Linked DNA regions of Homo sapiens. The protein of the gene in region 1 interacts with the protein of each later gene in a pairwise test. Each region holds a gene or a part of one and is shown on either strand. Other genes may lie near its edges.

The links. The genes of interacting proteins can lie anywhere in the genome.
Region 2: the proteins of MLH3 (region 1) and HSD17B3 interact in a two-hybrid assay, tested with the Homo sapiens proteins (one large-scale study listed by BioGRID and IntAct).
Region 3: the proteins of MLH3 (region 1) and FBP1 interact in a two-hybrid assay, tested with the Homo sapiens proteins (one large-scale study listed by BioGRID and IntAct).
Region 4: the proteins of MLH3 (region 1) and TSTD2 interact in a two-hybrid assay, tested with the Homo sapiens proteins (one large-scale study listed by BioGRID and IntAct).

What each region holds. Positions count from the first base shown.
Region 1 is NC_000014.9:75,047,798-75,053,321, forward strand, and holds the start of MLH3 (DNA mismatch repair protein Mlh3), read right to left. Parts: upstream 3,671-5,524; 5' UTR 3,583-3,670; intron 1,922-3,582; 5' UTR 1,859-1,921; coding exon 1-1,858. UniProt on the Homo sapiens protein: Probably involved in the repair of mismatches in DNA.
Region 2 is NC_000009.12:96,238,917-96,243,753, forward strand, and holds part of HSD17B3 (17-beta-hydroxysteroid dehydrogenase type 3), read right to left. Parts: intron 1,992-4,837; coding exon 1,842-1,991; intron 1-1,841. UniProt on the Homo sapiens protein: Catalyzes the conversion of 17-oxosteroids to 17beta-hydroxysteroids. Favors the reduction of androstenedione to testosterone. Testosterone is the key androgen driving male development and function. Uses NADPH while the two other EDH17B enzymes use NADH.
Region 3 is NC_000009.12:94,618,259-94,623,095, forward strand, and holds part of FBP1 (fructose-1,6-bisphosphatase 1), read right to left. Parts: intron 2,234-4,837; coding exon 2,071-2,233; intron 1-2,070. UniProt on the Homo sapiens protein: Catalyzes the hydrolysis of fructose 1,6-bisphosphate to fructose 6-phosphate in the presence of divalent cations, acting as a rate-limiting enzyme in gluconeogenesis. Plays a role in regulating glucose sensing and insulin secretion of pancreatic beta-cells.
Region 4 is NC_000009.12:97,612,109-97,616,945, reverse strand, and holds part of TSTD2 (thiosulfate sulfurtransferase/rhodanese-like domain-containing protein 2), read left to right. Parts: intron 1-4,837.

The DNA.
Region 1 (5,524 bases):
ATTTAGTTTTTTCATTTTGTACTACATGAGTTATAAAGCCAGTGGAACATAATTTAACTCGCCCATAACTAAAAACATTTCTTCTTCCACAATTGCTAGATTCTTTTTTTTTCTCTTTCTCTGTCTGAGCACTATGTACTCCCCATAATGTTGTTGCAAAAGGCAGAGGCTGGCATCCCACTTCAGTAGCATCTTTAAATCTCTTTGGTTGATTCTGAATTCTATTATTTTTCAAGATGTTGGCAGCCATGCCATTAACAGTAGTACTTTCTTTCCATATTTCTAGATCCTGCCCACTCTCCTCAAAGTGACATGGTGTCTGAAAAGGGCTTAAAAACATTTCTAAACTGGTTCCACACGGATTTTCTAAAGAGCTATGTTCCAGGAAAGATTTTTTATGTTTCTCATTTTCTCCAGCTTCTGATGCTACAATTGTCTCTTGTTCTAACATCTTTGATTCTGAGCAAGAGCTGTCTTTGTTTTGTAAAGATGGCTCTGTCATTTTGCTATGGCCTGGACCACCTGATTCATAAATGTACAAAAATGCATCATTTGTATTTTTTCTGGTAGCTTCTGAATCCCTAGAACTCTGTGTGTTTACGTTTTCTGCAGTAGTTTTTCTTTTCACAGCTTTTGACTGCAAATTAAACATCTCATAGGAATCTAAAATATTATTACATGCTTCCTGGAAATTGCTCCTCTCATCGGAAGTCACACGCTTCTGAAGAGTAGCATCAAATAAACTAAAACCATTATCTTCACTAAATTCCTTAATATCCTCACCTGATAATTCCACAAATAATTTTTCTTGCTTTAAAAACATTTTCACTCCTTCCTGAATGCAAAACAAGAGAGTGTCCCAGTTCTGAAATTCAATCAGAGTTTTGGCTGGCTCCATGCACACATCATACTCACAGAATTGGCACTGCACATTAATTACATATATGCCATAGAGTTCTGGGGTAGACCGGTGCCGAAGACTTGAATTCATTTGCCTACTGGTGGGACCATTCTTTGGCTTGCATATAATACTTTCTTTCCTTAATAAAAAGTCAATGAGTTTATGTAGCTTTGTCCTTAAAACTAGTCTTTTGTTCACAAACAAAAACTGCATATTCTTGTTGTAATGTGCTTCAGAGCTGATATAGCCACTAAGCTCAAACTCTTTATATTTAAAACTTATTTCTCTTAGCTTTTGGGACTTTCCCAATCCATAAATTTGACAAAATCGGGAACATACGTCTTTGGTTTTAGGGAGCTGAAGAACCATGGAACCAGAAACATCATTTCTCAAAGAGAAAGAAATGGAAGGGTGCATGAGTGAGAGAGCTTCTATTCTCTGCCTAACCTTCTCAAACTCCAGTCTAGGGTCCATGCATTTCCTCCTTACAGGAAGCTGGTAAAATAGGTTATACACTGTTACAGTAGTCCCAGCGCTTGCTCTAGTCACATCAGCTTCACAAGCTTTCAGGGCTTTTCCACTCTGAAACAGTTTCACAAAAGTTTTCATTGTCCTGTTTTTCTTGGACGAAATTTCCACAGCACTGGCCATGTCAGCAATATTTGCCAAGGCCTCTCCTCGGAAACCATAAAACCTTGGATTCTCCAAGTCCTGTACCGAGTGGCATTTACTGGTGAAATAACGATTTCCCACTTTCTCTACATCATCACTCCCCATCCCAAATCCATTGTCTATCACTTGAACTTGGAAGGTTTCCATATTCACCCTGACAGCCACACATTTTGCTTCAGCATCAATACTGTTGAGGGCAAGTTCCTCAACACATTGGCCCAAGGAGCTTATGGCCAAACCAGAACGCAATTTGGCTTGTACTTCAACTGACAAGCACTTGATCATGGTAGGTAGAAAGATGGTGAGAATGCCAGGCACTGGTTTCCTTCTCTGACTGGAAATAATTGCCTATTGGAGAAAAAAACCACACACGCACATAATCAAAGCTTTAGCATTACACAGCATTATGAAGAAATAGCACTTGAGGTAAATGAAATCACTCTTATTAAACCAAATTGTGAAACAAAGCAAAACAAAGTTATACCGCTGATCTCTAGGCACAGCTCATGCTTGGTGCAATGGATTAACATCCAAAAAAAATTCATAATTTCATAATTTTCAATGCTCCTTTCTAAATCCCACATGTCCTAAAGTGAAATCATAATTACACTTGAAGTTGACCAGTAAACACAGTATTCGAAATTCTAACCACTTCACCAAAAACAGATGCCTAAATTAAATACAGCTAAGGAACATTAGCTAGAAATTATTCATGACAAAAATGTCCAAGCTAGTTTCATAACATTTATACATTACACAATAACCATGACTTTTAGAAAAATACTTATAATGAATTGCTAAGACATTGTAATAAGGTGAAGCAATAGGAAGAAATTTTAAGAATCAAATTGTATCAAAGAGAGATTGGGGGCATTAAGAGGTTATTATTATTATGGTTAAGTATAGTCACCTCAGGGAAAGAGGCTGGGAATGGGAAAAGATAAAGCAGGAAAATTCCTTTTCATATAAACCTTTCTTTGCCATTTGATTGTTAAATCCTGTTCATGTATTACTCTGATGTTTTTAGAAAGTCGTTATTATTCTTTTTTGAAACAGTCTCACTCTGTCACCCAGGCTGGAGTGCAATGACACAATCTCGGCTCACTGCAGCCTGCACCTCCCGGGCTCAAGCAATCCTCCAGCCTTAGCCTCCCGAGTAGCTGGGATTACAGGCGCTCGCCACCATGCCTGGCTAATTTTTGTCTCTTATGTAGAGATGGGGTTTCACCATGTTAACCAGCCTGGTCTCGAACTCCTGAACTCAAGTGATCCTCCCGCCTTGGCCTCCCAAAGTGCTGGGATTACAGGTGTGAACCACCGCGCCCGGCCAGAAGGTCATTATTAATATTCTTTTGGTCTTTACAGATGGGCATAAACTACCTTGGTAATAATAATGATGGCATGGGGCTGCCTGAACTTGATTTTAAGTTTTCCTGCAAGTGAAAACACAAAAACAAAAAACAAAACAAAAAAAACCAAACCCTAAGATTCCAGTGCCATTAAAGGTCTCCCCTTCTTCTCCATCAGTGAGAGCCACGTGGGTGGGCCCCTGCAGGCGGTGGGGCCGGTTTTCCAAACTCGGGACAAATCAGGGCTCTTAACTGCAGAATTTCTGCTGCTTTCTAAGCTAATGCACTAAGCAGCCGGCAGCAACTGACGGGTAAACGTTTAACAAGTATTCCGATTAATGTAAACCCAATGATTTCCTGATGACGCCTCCCAGCGCCTGGGACTGACGGGACGCACGGGCCTGGATCCAGGGCACGGGGGCCTGGGAGGGCCGCGCGGGCCGAGTCCGGGGCAGCGCTGCCTTCCCGCCAGGCCCAGCCCCTCCCTGGCCAGCCCCGTCCTTGTCCCCAAACTGGGCCCGCCCGGCCGCCAGGCCGCCGGGCCTCCGGGGCCCTCGCGCATCCGGCTCCGAAAGCTGCGCGCAGCCATCATCAGGGCCCTTCTGGTGTTAGAAGAGACCCCGGCATCATCTTTTCGTCGCGTGCTTCCCCCAGAGTCACCTGGAGTCCCGCTTAACAAATTCTCCGACACCAACCGCCTCGGACGCCGACGCGCGCACCTTGGATCTTGAGGCTCGTGCGTGCCCACGAGCATGCGCTTCGGAGGGGGCGCGCCAGGCCGCGAGACACCAGTGCGCATGCGCACCAGTTGTTCCAGCCAAGGATCCGCATCCCAGGGTTCAGTGAACCGGTACCTACAGTCTCAATCCTTATTCCCTTTTGGCATGGTGTTAAAGACTATGTCGTAGCTTTTACTTTTGTTTTTATTTTTTTTTCCCGTGTTTTCCCTTTCCTTTTTTTTCTCATTTTCACCTTTGCTCTTAACTACCGTTTAATTCAATATATATTTTATGTGTTTACTTATTGTCTTCTCTCCCTAGAATGTAAGCTATGTGAAGGTAAGGAGTTTATATATTTTGTTTACTGCTGTATCCCAGTTACCAAGAACAGTGCCTGGCCTATGGTAGGCACCGAATGAATGAATAATTCCAGAGCCTGCCATCTTAGAATTATGGCATTTGGAGCTGGAAAAGGCTGAGAAACTGTCTAACTCAACTCTTTTTTTTTTTTTTTTTTTTTTTGAGACGGAGTTTAGCTCTTGTTGCCCAGGCTGGAATTCAGTGGTGCGATCTCAGCTTACTGCAACCTCCGCCTCCAGGGTTCAAGTGATTCTCCTGCCTCAGCCTCCCGAGTAGCTAGGATTACAGGCATGCGCCACCACACTCGGCTAATTTTGTATTTTTAGTAGAGACGGGGGTTTCTCCATGTTGGTCAGGCTGGTCTCGAACTCCGGACCTCAGGTGATCTGCCCGCCTCGGCCTCCCAAAGTGTTGGGATTACAGGCGTGAGCCACCGCACCCGGCCTTTGCTCAACTCTTAATTTACAGATGACAACACCAAGACTCTCTTCACTGACTTGAATCTCCCCAGTGCCACCACAGCTTTTAGTTATAAAAATAACTAAAGGAGAGCAGAACTCTGAGAATGCTGTGAGAATAAAGTGTTTTGGAATTGTTAACCAGTCCTTAGTTTTTGCTTTCTATCTCATTTTCATTGAGAATTTAAAGTGGAATTTATAACGAATTTGTCAGACCTGGTAAGCATTTGATATATGCTAGTTTAGTGACTAACCAAACCCAACCAACCAGTCTTCTAGGGCTGATTAAGCAAAATCCTGATAACTGTTTATGATTATTACTATACCTAGGGCTGCCATAACAAAATACCTCAGACTGAGTAGCTTAAGCAGCAGAAGTCTATTTCCTCTCAGTTCTAGAGACTGGAAGTCTGAGATCAAGGTGTTGGCAGCAACGATTTCTCCTGAGGCCTCTCTCCTTGGCTTGTAGATGGCCATTTTCACAGGGTCTTTGATTTTTGCACACGTGTCTATAGCCAATATGTTCTCTTATAAGAACACCAGTCAGATTGGATTAGGGCCCACCCTCACAGCCTCATTTAATCTTAATCACCTCTTTAAAGGCCCTATGTCCAAATACAGTCACTTTCTGAGGTACTGGGGACTGAGACTTTAACATATGAATTTGGTGGGACACAGTTCAGCCCATAACATAACTTTATGTGAATTCCTTACCCAGAGAAAAGAAACAACAGCAGAAGTAATTCATCCAAACATAAGGTGAACAGAGCTAACAAATTGAACTTGTGGTATTTGTTCTTATTAGGCATGGAATTTCTTGAAGAACATTTCATAGAAACCATTTAAAGAAATGACTCAGACTTTTTTTCTTTCAGACCTCTTTAAATTACCTCAAAATCCTCTTCCTACAAATGTTTACTGAATAAAGACCTCTCATTTCGCCCAAAAGGAAGTTCACTGAAGATTTTTTAAAAGTACTCTAAGCAGAAGGTTCTAACGTTTTTATTGATTAGATTTGTGTACAGTGGTAATCCTTCCATCATACAGGTAATATATAATAACATT
Region 2 (4,837 bases), on another chromosome or scaffold:
CAGGTGCTGAGATTTGGTTTTTCCAGCTTCCTTCAGGTCCACGTTGGTGCTGATGTAGAGATAGCAGCCAGAGGTCTATGTGGATCAAAGCTGCAGATGGACCTTGGGCCTGTAGCTGGAGGGGGATGTGGCAGAGTACAGCAGTCTGCTGCCCTCAGTAGCTGGGGAGACCTTATCAGGGTATCCACTGGCCAAGTCAAAAGGACAGAAAGGTTCATCTCCCTCATCCTTGACAGACATAAACTTCAGCAAGGTGAACAGCCACCCAGGACACCAGCCCACACACATGGAAGGACCGTCATGGACCACAGGGCATCCTCTCCCAGCGCCACCTAGTGAGAGGGGCAGGAAGAAGGGAGCCTCCAGGGAAGGATGAACATTTCTCCCTAAATAACAGACTAAGAGTACATTTCCTAAATGGCCAGTTGAGATGACTAGATCAAACTCAGTTTAGACTCATTGGACATTCGATGAATTTTCCTGCAGCAAGTGGTGATCTGGAAAAAGACCAGATCAGCAACAGAAAAAATAAAGACTTTATATCCTCTCTGCATGTCTGCTTTGTAGTGTGAGTTACATTGGTGATTATGCACATTGTTGAGGTTCTACATAAAAATAGCAAGTAATTGAGAAAGTTCAATATCTCTTGCCAGAGTCTTTAAGTCCCAGCAGATAAAGGAATGCTTTGGTAGACTTTAGCGCATGGAGCCATGAATCCTTCTACCATCCATGAAAGACAGAGAGAGATCCAATTCCTGCAGTAGAAAAGCCAATGAGACAGAGGAGGAAATTGGCAGATGATGGGTAAGTGAGGAAACCCCATCTAACTTTCTTTGGTGGGACTGGAGTCAGAGCTATGCCAATGTTATGTTTGCTTCAGTATTAGTGAGCAATACTCAAGTCTACCTTTGTTTCATGTTTGTGTTTGTTTTTAAAAGCAGTCCAGGAGTGGTAAGAGCCTCTTCTGCCATATGCTGGATCTGTGGCATGCTGGAGCTGGCTTGCACTCACTCATAAGAGCCCACTGCGATCATTCTCAGCAAACTAACACAGACACAGAAAACCAAACACCACATGTTCTCACTCATAAGTGGGAGTTGAACAATGAGAACACATGGACACAGGGAGGGGAACATCACACACCGGGGCCTGTCGGGGGGTGGGGGGCAAGGGGAGAGAGAGCATTAGGACAAATACCTAGTGCAAGCAGGGCTTAAAACCTAGATGACGGGTTGATAGGTGCAGCAAACCACCATGGCACATGTATACCTATGTAACAAACCTGCACGTTTTGCACATGCATCCTGGAACTTAAAGTAAAATAAAAATGAAAACTAAAAAAAGAGCCCTCTGTGCACCATGCACTCCTCAATTCATGCACACAGCGTCATGTCCGTGGCTTAAACTCAGCCATGCTGGAAGTATTTATACCGTGGAAGTCAAATGCTACACATCAAAGTGGTTTGTGCTTGTTTTGTTTTTTTGCCTGGAGGGCTGATAGCTAAACATTGACTGGAATAGAGGGTCAAGAGAAGACAGCAGCCCCCACGTGGAAGCGCCATATATCTTGGTCTTCCCTGCCCAACAGCTCCTGGGAGCCACCTTACTTTCTGAGGGGAGGAGGGAGGCAGCCAAGAATGAGACTTGCCAACTTCGGGGTTATCTAGTGGCTGAGCTCCCAGGCTCCGGCTTCTCTCCACCTCGCCACATAGTCCTTGTACCTGGCTATATTAACGCATCAATGAGTGCTCCAGCAGCAAGGAAGAGCTAGCCCAGCCCTGCCAGGGCCACCTGCGTGTCCTCCCTCCCTGGCTTCAAGAAAAGGAGAAGTTATCAATTACCAAGATTTCATGGGCAAGGCAGCCACAGGTTTCACCTCCAATTGTGACATAATTCAATGACTCTTTGACAAACTCATCAGCAGTCTTGGTTATCACATTTGTATTTAGATACTTTGTCATTGCAGTCGAGACAGCATATGGGGTCAGCACCTACAACGGGAAACAAAGACCATGGCACAGAAGCAATCCACCCCAGGAAGAAGACTCAGAAATTAACACTCAAGCCCCCATCCCACCATTTCCCGACCCTTCTCTTCCTAGGCAAAGTTTTAAGATCTTGAGTGGAAAAAGGCACAGTACCGGCACAGAGCTGGGAATCAGAAATTTGGTTTCTCAAGATGAGAACCTACCTAGCCAACATCAAGTGGCCCAAATGCCCTGCCCAACACACAGTGTGAATGGGAAGAACTCGGGTCTCTCTCTCAGAACCAAGTTGCAAGACAGCAAATAAAAATACAGGATGTCCAGTTAAATTTGAAGTTCAGACAAACAATGAAAACCACTTCAGCACAATCGTATCCCAAGTATTGCATGGGACATACTTATACTGAAAACTATTCATAGGCATCTGAAATTCAAATTTAACTGGAGGTCCTGTATTTAATCTGGCAACTCTATCTCAGAAGTTTGTTTCTAATACATATAACCAAAGTTGGAGCAACTGAAAGCACTCTGGATTCCCACTTTCACACTTCAGTTAGGAACCAAGAGTAGCACATACCTCATAACCTCTTCCTGTTGTGGTAAGAAAAACAATCACACATTGTGCCCTAAAAACCCAACACCATGTTTCCACCTGTGGGCTAACCACATTGTGGCCTGGCATGGGGATTCATAATGGGGTTTTATTACCTTATTCCCAGAACAAAGGGTTTGGCATCTTTAGAAAGAAAAAAGGCTGGCATGGTGACTCATGCCTGTAATCCCAGCATGTTGGGAGGCCAAGGCAGGACGATTGCTTGAGCCCAGGAGTGCGAGACCAGCCTGAGCAACATGGCAAAACCTCATCTCCATTAAAAATAGAAAAATTAGTCAGGCACGGTGGCACATGCCTGTAGTCCTAGCTACTTAGGAGGCTGAGGCAGGAGGATCCACTGAACCTGGAAGGCAGAGGTTACAGTGAGCCAAGATCGTGCCACTACACTCCAGCCTAGGCTACATCAGAGTGAAACCCTGTCAAAAAAAAAAAAAGAAAAGAACAGAAAAAGAAAGAAAGAAAGAAAGAAAGAAAGAAAGAAAGAAAGAAAGAGAAAGAAAAGAAAGAAAAGAAAAAGTAAAAAAAAAAATCCACAAAAGTTTTCTAGGTTTTATTTTTCTTCACATCACATTTGGAATTACATTATTTCATAATTGAACCCAATTATGAATCAATTAATCCAAATGAGCAGGTTCCTATGGAAATTAAAGCATGATTAATTTGTATAACACTTTTCTTCCAAGGATCTCAAAGTGTTACTCTTTGAGAAATATAAGGAGTGTGCTTTCTCCACCACAGTTTCCAGATAGGGAAGTAATGATAAGTATTTTCATTCTTAAGTGATTTTGGGTTGACAAAACACCTGTATGTACAAAATAGGGGCTCAATAAATATTGTTTAAACATATGTACTTATTTCTTCGTTAGATCTTTACTATAACCCAGAGATATAAGCAGGCATTATAAGCCCCTTTTTATGGATGGGAAAACTGAGGCTCACAGAGTTTAAACAAGCTGACCAGGATCACTCAGATGATAAGTGGTAGAGCTGTGATGAAATTCAAACCCAACTCCACAGTACATACTTCTTCATGCATTCAGCGAGTATTTATTCATTCAGCGAGTATTTATTGAGTGTGTGTTCGGAGAGGCCAATTGGTTTTTGAAAGATCACAGTCTTTTCACTTTCTCCTCCTTGCTAGAAGAGCACCTCCAAGTTCTCTGCATCAGGGAAGGGACAAGGGACTCCATTTCCCCACCCACATCTCCTCCTGACCCTCCTGCTCCATAGTACCCACTACCTCGGCAGCTGTGCCCCAAGGATCAAGACAAGATGCTGCTGAGGGTCACATGGCTAGGAAGCAGGTGGCTGCGATGATCATTCATGTTTAGAAATCACCAAGGATTCTTGGTTCCTTCTTCTTCCAGACACATGCATAATAGAATTGCACTTCCTGGCCCCCTGTGGCTGTGTAGGACCATGCAAGCAGAGTTGGCCAGTGATTTATGAACAGAGGTGACATGTGTCATCTCTGGGCCAGAGCATTTCATTGTCAAAGCAGGACCCACTAGAACTTCCCACTCCTTTTCCTCTGGCATGTCGGCTGCTCCGTCAGCCTGGGGCCCTGTGTCAGCACAGTGAGCCAATGTCTTCTGTGAACCCACAGTGGATGTGTCACGTGAATGCAAAATAGGACTTTGTTGTTTTAAGCCACTGAGATTTTAGGGGTTATTTTTTTACTGCAGCAAACTTAGCCCAGACAGAGTTGCAGCATTACAAAAGCGAAACTCCAGCTTCAGCTGGGAGTGGGAGCACGGAGACCCCAGCATGGAAGCAGGACCCTCTGATGGGTCAGACGGCTTCTGCATGGCAGAGAAAGGGACTGTGACCCGGTGGCAAGGCTGTTACAACCACTCACTATGGCTCAGAGATGATATTATTGGCCAAATTCCTACCATTAACTCATATCTGCCTACTTAATAAGCTTTACCCTGTAGCTGGTTAGTTTATAGGAACAGCTGCCTAAAATACTCTCACTGGATATTTTAATTGAAAATCAGTGTGCGCAGCAATAATTTCCAAGATATAATTTTGAGTGTGCCTTTCTCCATTTCTAATAGTATATCGTAAAACTTCTTCCCACACAACAATAACAAAACAAAACAAAAACTCTGTTTATTCTACGTTCCAGAAACTATCTAACTCTAACTCTGTTGCTGAACCAAGCACAAATAAATCACTGACACTTTAGGAATCACATTGCTCAGCCTGCAGCAGGCAGTGACAGCCCAGCTCTGCC
Region 3 (4,837 bases), on another chromosome or scaffold:
TTGAGATCTATAAGAAACTTCTCATGGAGGTCTTACAGATGCCCCTTGAGGTTGGGGTGCATAGAGTTTTCAAAAATATCCTGGCTGGGCACGGTGGCTCATGCCTAATCCTAGCACTTTGGGAGGCTAAGACAGGAGGATTGCTTGAGCCCAGGAGTTTGAGACCAGCCTGGGCAGCATAGAGAGACTCCTTCTGTAAAAAAAAAAAAAAAAAAAAAAAAAAAAAAAAAAATTCAATTAGCTGGGCATGATGCTGCACATCTGTAGTCCCAGCTACTCAGGAGGCTGAGACAGGAGGTATCACTTGAGCCAGGAGTTCGAGGCTGCAGTGAGCCATGACTGTGCACTCCAGTCTGGGTGACAGAATGAGGCCCTGTCTCTAAAAACAAAACTAAACAAAACAAATTTCTAGCGTAATTCCCAAAGTAGATAACTTTCAGTGGTAGTGGGAATACCGCAGATTCCTGTTTTGAGTGGGATTTTCAGTGGTGTGCAGGAGCTGGCTGGTATCGGCTCTCAGGAGCTAACGGTGCACATCTCTTCCCAACTCTGCCTTCAGTGATATCACATTGGTAGCTTAAAATCAACGATGGGAGAGTATTCACACCATTGACAGAGGCAAGTGGACATATCAGAGACTTGTTTGTTTGCTTTGAGACCCAGTTTACCAGCACATCACTGGGAGTTTTCCATCTCCAAATTAGCCACTTTACAATGTCGTTTTTAAATGTCTGTAGCAGATTAACATGATTCCCTGCCCTCTTGCTCTTCACAGACCACCCTCACTAATGCAGGAGGAACTGGAAACTGGAACACAGGAAGCTGCCTATCATGAAGGCCCATGATAGACAAGAGAAGTCCGGCGTGAGTGATGGAGAATATTAAACAACAAATCTAAGCCATACGCCTAAAGCTGCCAAAGACCTTGAAAGGCCCAGCTGAGAAAAACATGAACTTCAAGTCTGGCATGTACGGCTATTTTAGGAATGATGAAAAACAACTTCATCAGATGTGGCTCCTGCCCTCTTAATAGGGTGAGGACAGGCAGCCTCTTCATCTTCTCATTGTTTTTTCCTAATTCTACTCCTTCATGTTCCCAGTTCCTCTCAAACTGGGAAAGATAGTAAGCCCATATAACTGCACTTCTAATCTCAGAAGTTTTTTTTTCTAATTACAATTGTTGTTTTATAAAAGCTGGGAATACTCTTTCATTTAACAATCTTTTTCAACAGTCATTTGTTGTTGAGGCCCTCCAATGTGCCAGGCATTGCACTAGACACTGGGACACAGAGACAAATAAGATTCATTTTCTGCTCTCAAAAAGCAGAGATAACGCCAGGTGTGGTGGCTCACACCTGTAATCCCAGCACTTTGGGAGGCCAAGGTGGGCGGGTCACTTGAGGTCAGGAGTTCAAGGCCAGCCTGGCCAACATGGTGAAACCTCATCTCCACTAAAAATACAAAAATTAGCCAGGTGTGGTGGCGGGAACCTGTAATCCCAGCTACTCAGGAGGCTGAGGCAGGAGAATCGCTTGAACCCAGGAGGCGGAGGTTGCAGTGAGCCAAGATCACACCACTGTACACCAGACTGGGCAACAAGAGCAAAACACTGTCTCAAAAAAAAAAAAAAAAAAAAAAAAAAAAGAAGCAGAGACAGACCAATAGGGACTCCAATGCGTGCATCAGGGATGGAAGTTTCAAGCAGTCTAGGTCAACAGGAGGGTCAGTGTGAAGGTCAGGAATTTGGTGGATAGGGATGTAGTACAAGAGGTGACCAACAGAAGCCAGGGTTTGAAGAGCCTTAAACATGGCAATAAAAAGTTAGAAATGGAGATGAGTTTGTGGGAGTCCACTGGGGAGAAGGCGGCGTGAGCCACAACACTCATCTGCACAGTGGCTCAGGGAGGATTCGAGAGATGGCAGCAGTGAGGTGGAAGCTATGAAAAGACCACAGCAGGGATCTAGAGGGACTCCCAGAAACCCAGCTCAGCTGAACAAGTGGAGTCAATTATGAAGCTGGGAAGAAGACCGGCTACATTAAAACCCTCAATGGTGGAAGTACAGACCCACCCTTTTCTCCGGTTCCACTATGATGGCGTGTTTATCTTCTTCTGACACGAGAACACACGTGGCAAAGGATGACTTTAACATGTTCATAACCAGGTCGTTGGAGAGGACGTCCAGCTTCTTAACTTGATCACCTGTCACGTTGGTAGAACCAGCAATGCCATAGCTACAGGGAACAAAAGCCACAAAAAATAAGCCATGACCACCAGAACATGTAGATGAGTCCATAAACCCACCAAAAGTGAGTGTTCGGTAAGATTTAGAAGAAAGAGTTCATGTCCTTTGCAGGGACATGGATGAAGCTGGAATCCATCATTCTCAGCAAACTAATACAGGAACAGAAAACCAAACACCACATGTTCTCACTCATAAATGGGAGTTGAACAATGAGAACACATAGACACAGGGAGGGGAACATCACACACTGGGGCCTCTCAGGGAGCTGGGGACTAGGGGAGGGAGAGCATTAGGAGAAATACCTAATGTAGATGACAGATTGATGGGTGCAGCAAACCACCATGGCATGTTTATACCTATGTAACAAACCTACGCATTCTGCATGTGTATCCCAGAACTTAAAGTATAATAATAATTTTTTTAAAAAAGGGCCGGGCGTGGTGGCTCACGCCTGTAATCCCAGCACTTTGGGAGGCTGAGGCGGGTGGATCATGAGGTCAGGGGATCGAGACCATCCTGGCTAACATGGTGAAACCCCGTCTCTATTAAAAAATACAAAAAAGTAGCCGGGTGTGGTGGTGGGTGCCTGTAGTCCCAGCTACTTGGGAGGCTGAGGCAGGAGAATGGCGTGAACCCAGGAGGCGGAGCTTGCAGTGAGCCGAGATCGTGCCACTGCATGCCAGCCTGGGCGACAGAGCGAGACTCCGTCTCAAAAAAAAAAAAAAAAAAAAAAAATACAAAAAATTAGCCGGGTGTGGTGGCGGGCGCCTGTAGTCCCAGCTATTCAGGATGCTGAGGCAGGAGAATGGCGTGAACCCGGGAGGTGGAGCTTGCAGTGAGCCGAGATCGCACCACTGCACTCCAGCCTGGGCGACAGAGCAAGATTCCGTCTAAAAATATATATATTTTTAGAAGAAAGGAAGGAGGACATCAGCTTGGGAGAACAAGGCAGGAAGGTCTGGACAGACCCTAGAGAGGAGGAGATACTATCATCTGCCTCTTCACCTCGAACCTGTCATGGTGCCCTGCACACTTTTGTGGTTAAATCAGTGTTTCTTAACTTTGTTTTCATTATGATTCCCCTAGGGAGCTTTTTAGAACATTTTTTCCTCAACCATACTCCCCCATGAAATATTTTTAATACTACAGATATAGTAGATATCTGTTTATTGCAGTATGTGTCTCAGTGCTTTTTACATAAAAAGTTTGCGGGTGTTTTTGGTTTTGCCCAGAAAGAACCAGTGTTGGCCCCCAAACACACGGGTTAAACGAATCAATAGAGAGACCCAGCAAGCAAGGAAGCCTGGGTCGGGGGTAGCCTGAGTTGCGAGCCAAGCCAAGGGGTTTATGGCTTTATAACTAAAAAGACCCTAAAAGAAACAAAGCATCAACCGGCCCCTCTGCCTCATTTCATAGAGGAGAAAACTCAGACCCAAGACTCCTGTGGACTTCTCCACACAGGCAGAGGGTAGAAGTGAGACGCTGCCTATGACTCCCAGGCAGAGGGTGGAGGCGAGACCCTGCCTATGACTCCCAGGCCAGGGCTCTCTTGGTGACACCCTGGGCCCCTGGCAGGAGTCCTAGGGCATGGAAGTTGCAGGGATCCTGGAGTTTTCACTATTTTTAAGCAACCTGCAAGTCAGTAATTATAGAATTCCCAGAATCCAGTGGCTTGTCTAAACGCAGCCTAGCTTCTTAGACTTACAGAAGCGGCAGGTTGTCATAGCCTGGGGTTGCCCTGAACACAGAAAGGAGGGAGACGTCTCACAGGAAGGATGCACAGAGCAAGGCGAGAGCCTTGATGTGGGAAGGGGAAAAGATGGGTCTTTGAAGACACCAGCAAGCCTCTGAAAGTGGGTGGTAAGGGCACACCCGCGCCCTTGGCCATGATGGCGATGTGCGCTCGCCTGGGAACTGACGGTCCCTGATCCAGTGGCCGTGACTGCTTCAGCTCCTGCAAGTGCATTTGCCCAAAACATAACTCGCTGTGACTGGCTGGGCAAAACTGAGCCCCTCCTAGAAACCATCCAAACCCACATGCCTGGTCCGGCCTGACTATCTCAGGAGCTAGCTCCGGCTGTCTTCTCGGGCCCGCCTGTCAGCGTCTTTCAGCCACTCTTGGCATCATTCCCTTTCCAGCCTGCAAAGCACATCTCATCCCACCAGCCCTCCTCCTGCTGCTTCTCTTTTCACCCATCACTCCTATTTCATGAGTAAAAGACCAAGATGTCTATCGAGCTTTGAGCTCCACCCCATGTCCCTGGGCTTTCGATCCTATTTCCACATGATCTTTTTCTGACCCCAATTGTGAGGCTGGGGCTTGTGCAGGAAGAAGGCAGCCAAAATCTGGGAGGCCAGAGGGACTTGGCAGGGCCCACCAGCTCAAATGCAGCTCCCTCAGTGACCCCACTAGCAGCAGTGCTCTCTCCTTTCCAGCCTGAGAGTTGCACTGTCAAAGTCACTTTATGATTATTTTTATTTTTATTTTTATTTTTATTTTTGGAGACAGTGTCACTCTGTTGTCCAGGCTGGTGTGCAGTTGCGTGATCTCGGCTCACTGCAACCTCCGCCTCCCAGGTTCAAGCGATTCTCG
Region 4 (4,837 bases), on another chromosome or scaffold:
CATGTTCATGACAAAACCAGAAGTGCATGTATAAACATGGAAGGTTGTGTATACCAAAATGTTAGTAAGGATTATCTAGGCATGTAGGATTATCGATGGTTTTTATTTTCCTAAAATATTCTCTGATTACATTATACACATGCATATGTCTATGTATTTTATATGATTTTCAAAATTTAAATCGAAAGGAAGTGAACTAGTTTCCCCCAAAACCCCCTCTGGTTATGACACTGTGCTGCCTTGTTTCATCTTTCCCAACATATGACCCAGGTCTGAATTGATCAGTGATATTTTTCACATCCATGTTTTCCAACAGATAATGACTTCATTTACCTCATTCAGTTCATCACCAAGGCCTGCCATTTCCACCTCTTCAAATATTCCTTAATTCCGTTCCCTTCTCTCTTCCACACTCACCACTTTAGACCAAACCACCACCCTCTCTTACCCAGTCCATTCAGTAGCTTTCAAATTACTCTTCAGCTTGCCATCCCTGCCTGCCACTTAATCCATTCTCCACACAGCCATAATGATCCTAAAAGGTGAATCAAATCACATCACTCCCTCCTCAAACTCTTTCAGTGGCTGCCACTTCTGGTGCATATGGAGGAAATCCAGTGCCTTAAAAATGCCCTTAGGTTCCTGCGTGAGTTGGCCCCTTCTTACCTTTTCCTCTCGTCTGATACTGTTCTTTGCTCATTATACTCCAGCAACATGGTCTTTCAGTTTTTTGGAACCCACCGAGTTCTTTTCTCTCCTTGGGCCTTCTTACAAGCAAACTATCTTCAAGGAACTCTCCTACACCCACTCTGCTGCTCCAGTCTGATTTTTACTCAAGCTTAGTTTTCAATTTTCATGACACTTCCTCAAAGAGACCTTTCCTGTCAATCTAAATTCATTTTTCCCAGTGCACTCTCTCATGGCATCTTGTAATTGTTTTTCATAACATTTGTCCATTTGTAACTTTTATTTTAATATCTGTGACCTCCCATAGTCTGTAAGCTCCTAAAGGGGAAAAGCTATATTTTTTTCAAGCACTGTATCCCTAATTCCTAGCACAATTCCTGGTGTAAATAAATAAATAATATTTAATACTTTCATCACCATTCCTATTCAGAAAACTTCCACACCCTGAAAGATGGATACTCTCACAGTAAACCTGAATGTACAAGGTTTGAAAACAGCCTCTTGGTTTAGAGGCAGATCATTTTTCTTGGCCCAACCCAAGTGCTAAATTAGCAATGAGGGATCTTACCCACAAGGTGGCAGCACTTGCCTAGATCTTGGATATAAATTCCTAGGTGTCAAGGATACATGCCCAGTTTAATGAGAGTTTTGTGTTTGGAGATTTGGCAAAATATCAGTGCCTAAGTAGGGAAAGAGAAGAACCTGACAGTTGTAGAATTATGGGAAAAAAGCCTCTACTCTATTGCTGTGTATTCTTTATTGCCTCAAAAAATTTGAGGGGATACATTGAAGGCTTTGGAAAGGAAAAGTTATAAGATTGGGAGCTAGTAAGATCTGGTTTTGAATCCCAGATTTACCAGCTATCAGCTATACCACTGGGCAAGTTACTTGATTTCTCTGAGCTTTTGTTTCCTTTTCTGTAAAACGGGGATTATGATATCTGCCTTTCAGGATTATAATGTAATGCTTCTGTCTCATAGCAAGTGCTGAATAAATGCTAATGATTGTTCTTCTCAGTTTCTTACAAGGCCTTCCTCACTAAGGAGCTTTGAAGGATTTCTGTTAGAGAATCCTGGGGGTTCAAAGTCTAGTGCACGAGTTTAGAGCATGCTCTGCCCTAGCTATATAGGGAGCAGATGTGCTTGTCTTCTCTTTGGGTTCTGAGATTAAAATAAATTAGAAAAGAATCTACTAGCCTACCCCAAGAGAGGTACTTAGACATACATACTTCATCCTACCTGCTGTAGTCAGAAACTCTTTTGGAGTGGGTTTTCTGACTCTTACACTGATTGGGCTCTATTTTTCTATGTAGTCCACTATAAGTTGGTAGTGGGGACAGTAGCCTGTGTAGCAGAGATGTCACAGGCTTCCTGCTTCCCTCTCCCATGCCCAGAACTGGCTTCACTAGACTGCAGCACTGTTTCTCAAGGAGTCTGGATGTGACCCGGAATCTTTGTCATGGAACTCTGGAAAACATTTTACAGTACTATACGTAGAGGTGTGATTCCAAGCTTCTTAATTTTCTAGAACCTGCCAGGGTCATTTACCAGCTCAGGGTATTGACATTTGCTGTTTCCTTCCTCTCTAGAGTGCTCTTCCCTGCACCTTCACATGGCGCATACCCCACTTCAGATCTCGGCTCACATATTGTCTCCTTAGAGCTGCAGTCTGAAGTAGTCCTCTCCAGATCTTGTCACGTTCTATCCCTTTCTGCTTTTCAAAGAATTTATTACTATCTGAAAGTATAATCTTCATTTATAAGCTTCATGAGGACAGGAATTTTGGTCTTAATTGATGTATTCTCAGTGCTGGAACAGAGCTTAGCATGTAGTAGACCCTCAGTAGATATTTGGAGAATATAGAATGCATGTTCATGACAAAACCAGAAGTGCATGTATAAACATGGAAGGTTGTGTATACCAAAATGTTAGTAAGGATTATCTAGGCATGTAGGGTTATCGATGGTTTTTATTTTCCTAAAATATTCTCTGATCATATTACACACATGCATATGTTTGTGTCTTTTATGTTCTTTCAAAGTTTAAAATTATATACCACTTCCAATGAGTTGGCATTGGCTTGTGCCATGAATCTTGTTTTATATCCATACCCTAAAGAGTTGATCAGGTAGGGCTGGGTGCGATGGTTCATGCCTGTAATCCCAGCACTTTGGAAGGCCGAGGCAGGCAGGTCACAAGGTCAGGAGATTGAGACCATCCTGGCTAACACGGTGAAACCCCGTCTCTACTAAAAATATGAAAAATTAGCCGGGCGTGGTGGCGGGCACCTGTAGTCCCAGCTACTTGGGAGGCCGAGGCAGGAGAATGGTGTGAACCTGGGAGGCGGAGCTTGCAGTGAGCCGAGATTGCACCACTGCACTGCAGTCTGGGCGACACAGCGAGACTCTGTCTCAAAAAAAAAAAAAAAAAAAGAATTGATCAAGTGAGGCATCAACTGATGTGTCTTCTCTGGACCCTAAAAAAGGACAGCCATTAAAAATTTTCAAATTATGAAGTACTGGTATATATCAGTGTTATATGACTAGAACAATATAGGACCTTGAATTAAATCATCTCTTTTTCCAGACAGTGCCATGATGCCACATGTGCTGCCCTTGCTAGCACTTTTCTTTAGAGAGCTCAGTTCCCTTTAAAGATGATCCATCTTTAAACTCATCCACAGGATTTTGTAGTACGAAAACAACCAACTCTGCAGGGCCCCCAGAACACTGCCTCTTAAGGCTGGGGCTTTACCCCAGGCTCTAATGTCCCCTAACCAGGGGAGCATTTCAAAGAGAATATGGGACTTGAGATGCCAAAGAGCCCCAGATATGGATGCATATTCATTTATTCAACAAATCGTATTGAGTGCCTACTATGTGGCAGGCACTGTTCTAGGGGATATGCTGGTGAGCAAAACAGACACACACCCATGTGGAACTTGTATTCCAGTGGATGGTTTGCAGTGGTAGGCTGTCCTCCAAACACCATGCAGAGATACATGCTCATGTATACCCTCAGCCCTCAGATGTACTCTGTGCTTTAGGATTTTGGTAGTATCTCCTCAGCAGTTCTTTTCATTTCTGGTGCTCTTTAGTTCCCTTTTTATTCATATAAAGAAATTAAGATTCAGAGAAGTCAATTAACTTTCTCACAGCTACATGCAAGTGAGTGGCAGAGCTTAATCTTGAGCCTAGATCTGCTGACCTCTGTGGAGGACTCTGTTAAGCTACCTGGATTTAGATTAAGCTCAGAATTCACTTCTTTGGCTGTTGGACTATTGTAGCTCCATAGCAAATGGGGCTTTCCAGGAGTTTTATTCACATTCTTTTGTTCAGCATGCATGAAACAGAATACCTCATCTGAACTGAAGGCTATGCCATTTTAGAAAAATACAAGTATCCAGCTGGGCACGGTGGCTTGTGCCTGTAATCCCAGCACTTTGGGAGGCCAAGGCGGGTAGATCACTTGAGGCCAGGAGTTGGAGACCAGCCTGGCCAACATGGCGAAACCCCGTCTCTACTAAAAATACGAACATTAGCTGGGCTTGGTGGCGCATGCCTGTAATCCCAGCTACTCAGGAGGCTGAGGTAGGAGAATCGCTTGAACCCAGGAGGTGGAGGCTGCAGTGAGCCGAGATTGTGCTATTGCACTCCAGCCTGGGCAACAGAGCAAGACTCTGTCTTAAAAAACAAACAGGTATCCATCTCACACCTGTCAGAATGGCTGTTATTAAAAAGTCAAAAAATAACAGATGCTGGTGAGGTTGTAGAGAAAAAGGAATACTTATACACTATAGGTGGGAGTGTAAATTAGCTCAACCGTTGTGGAAGACAATGTGGTAATTCCTCAAAGACCTAAAGACAGAACTATCATTCGACCCAGCAATCCCATTACTGGGTATGTACCCAAAAGAATATAAATTGTTCTGTTATAAAGACACATGTATGCATATGTTCATTGCAGCACTGTTCACAGTAGCAAAGACATGGAATCAACCTAATGCCCATCAGTGATAAACTGGATAAAGAAAATGTGGGAATACTATGCAGCTATAAAAAAGAACAAGATCATGTCTTTTGCAGGGACATGGATGGAGCTGGGAGCCATTATCCTTAGCAAACTAACGCAGGAAGAGAAAACCAAATACT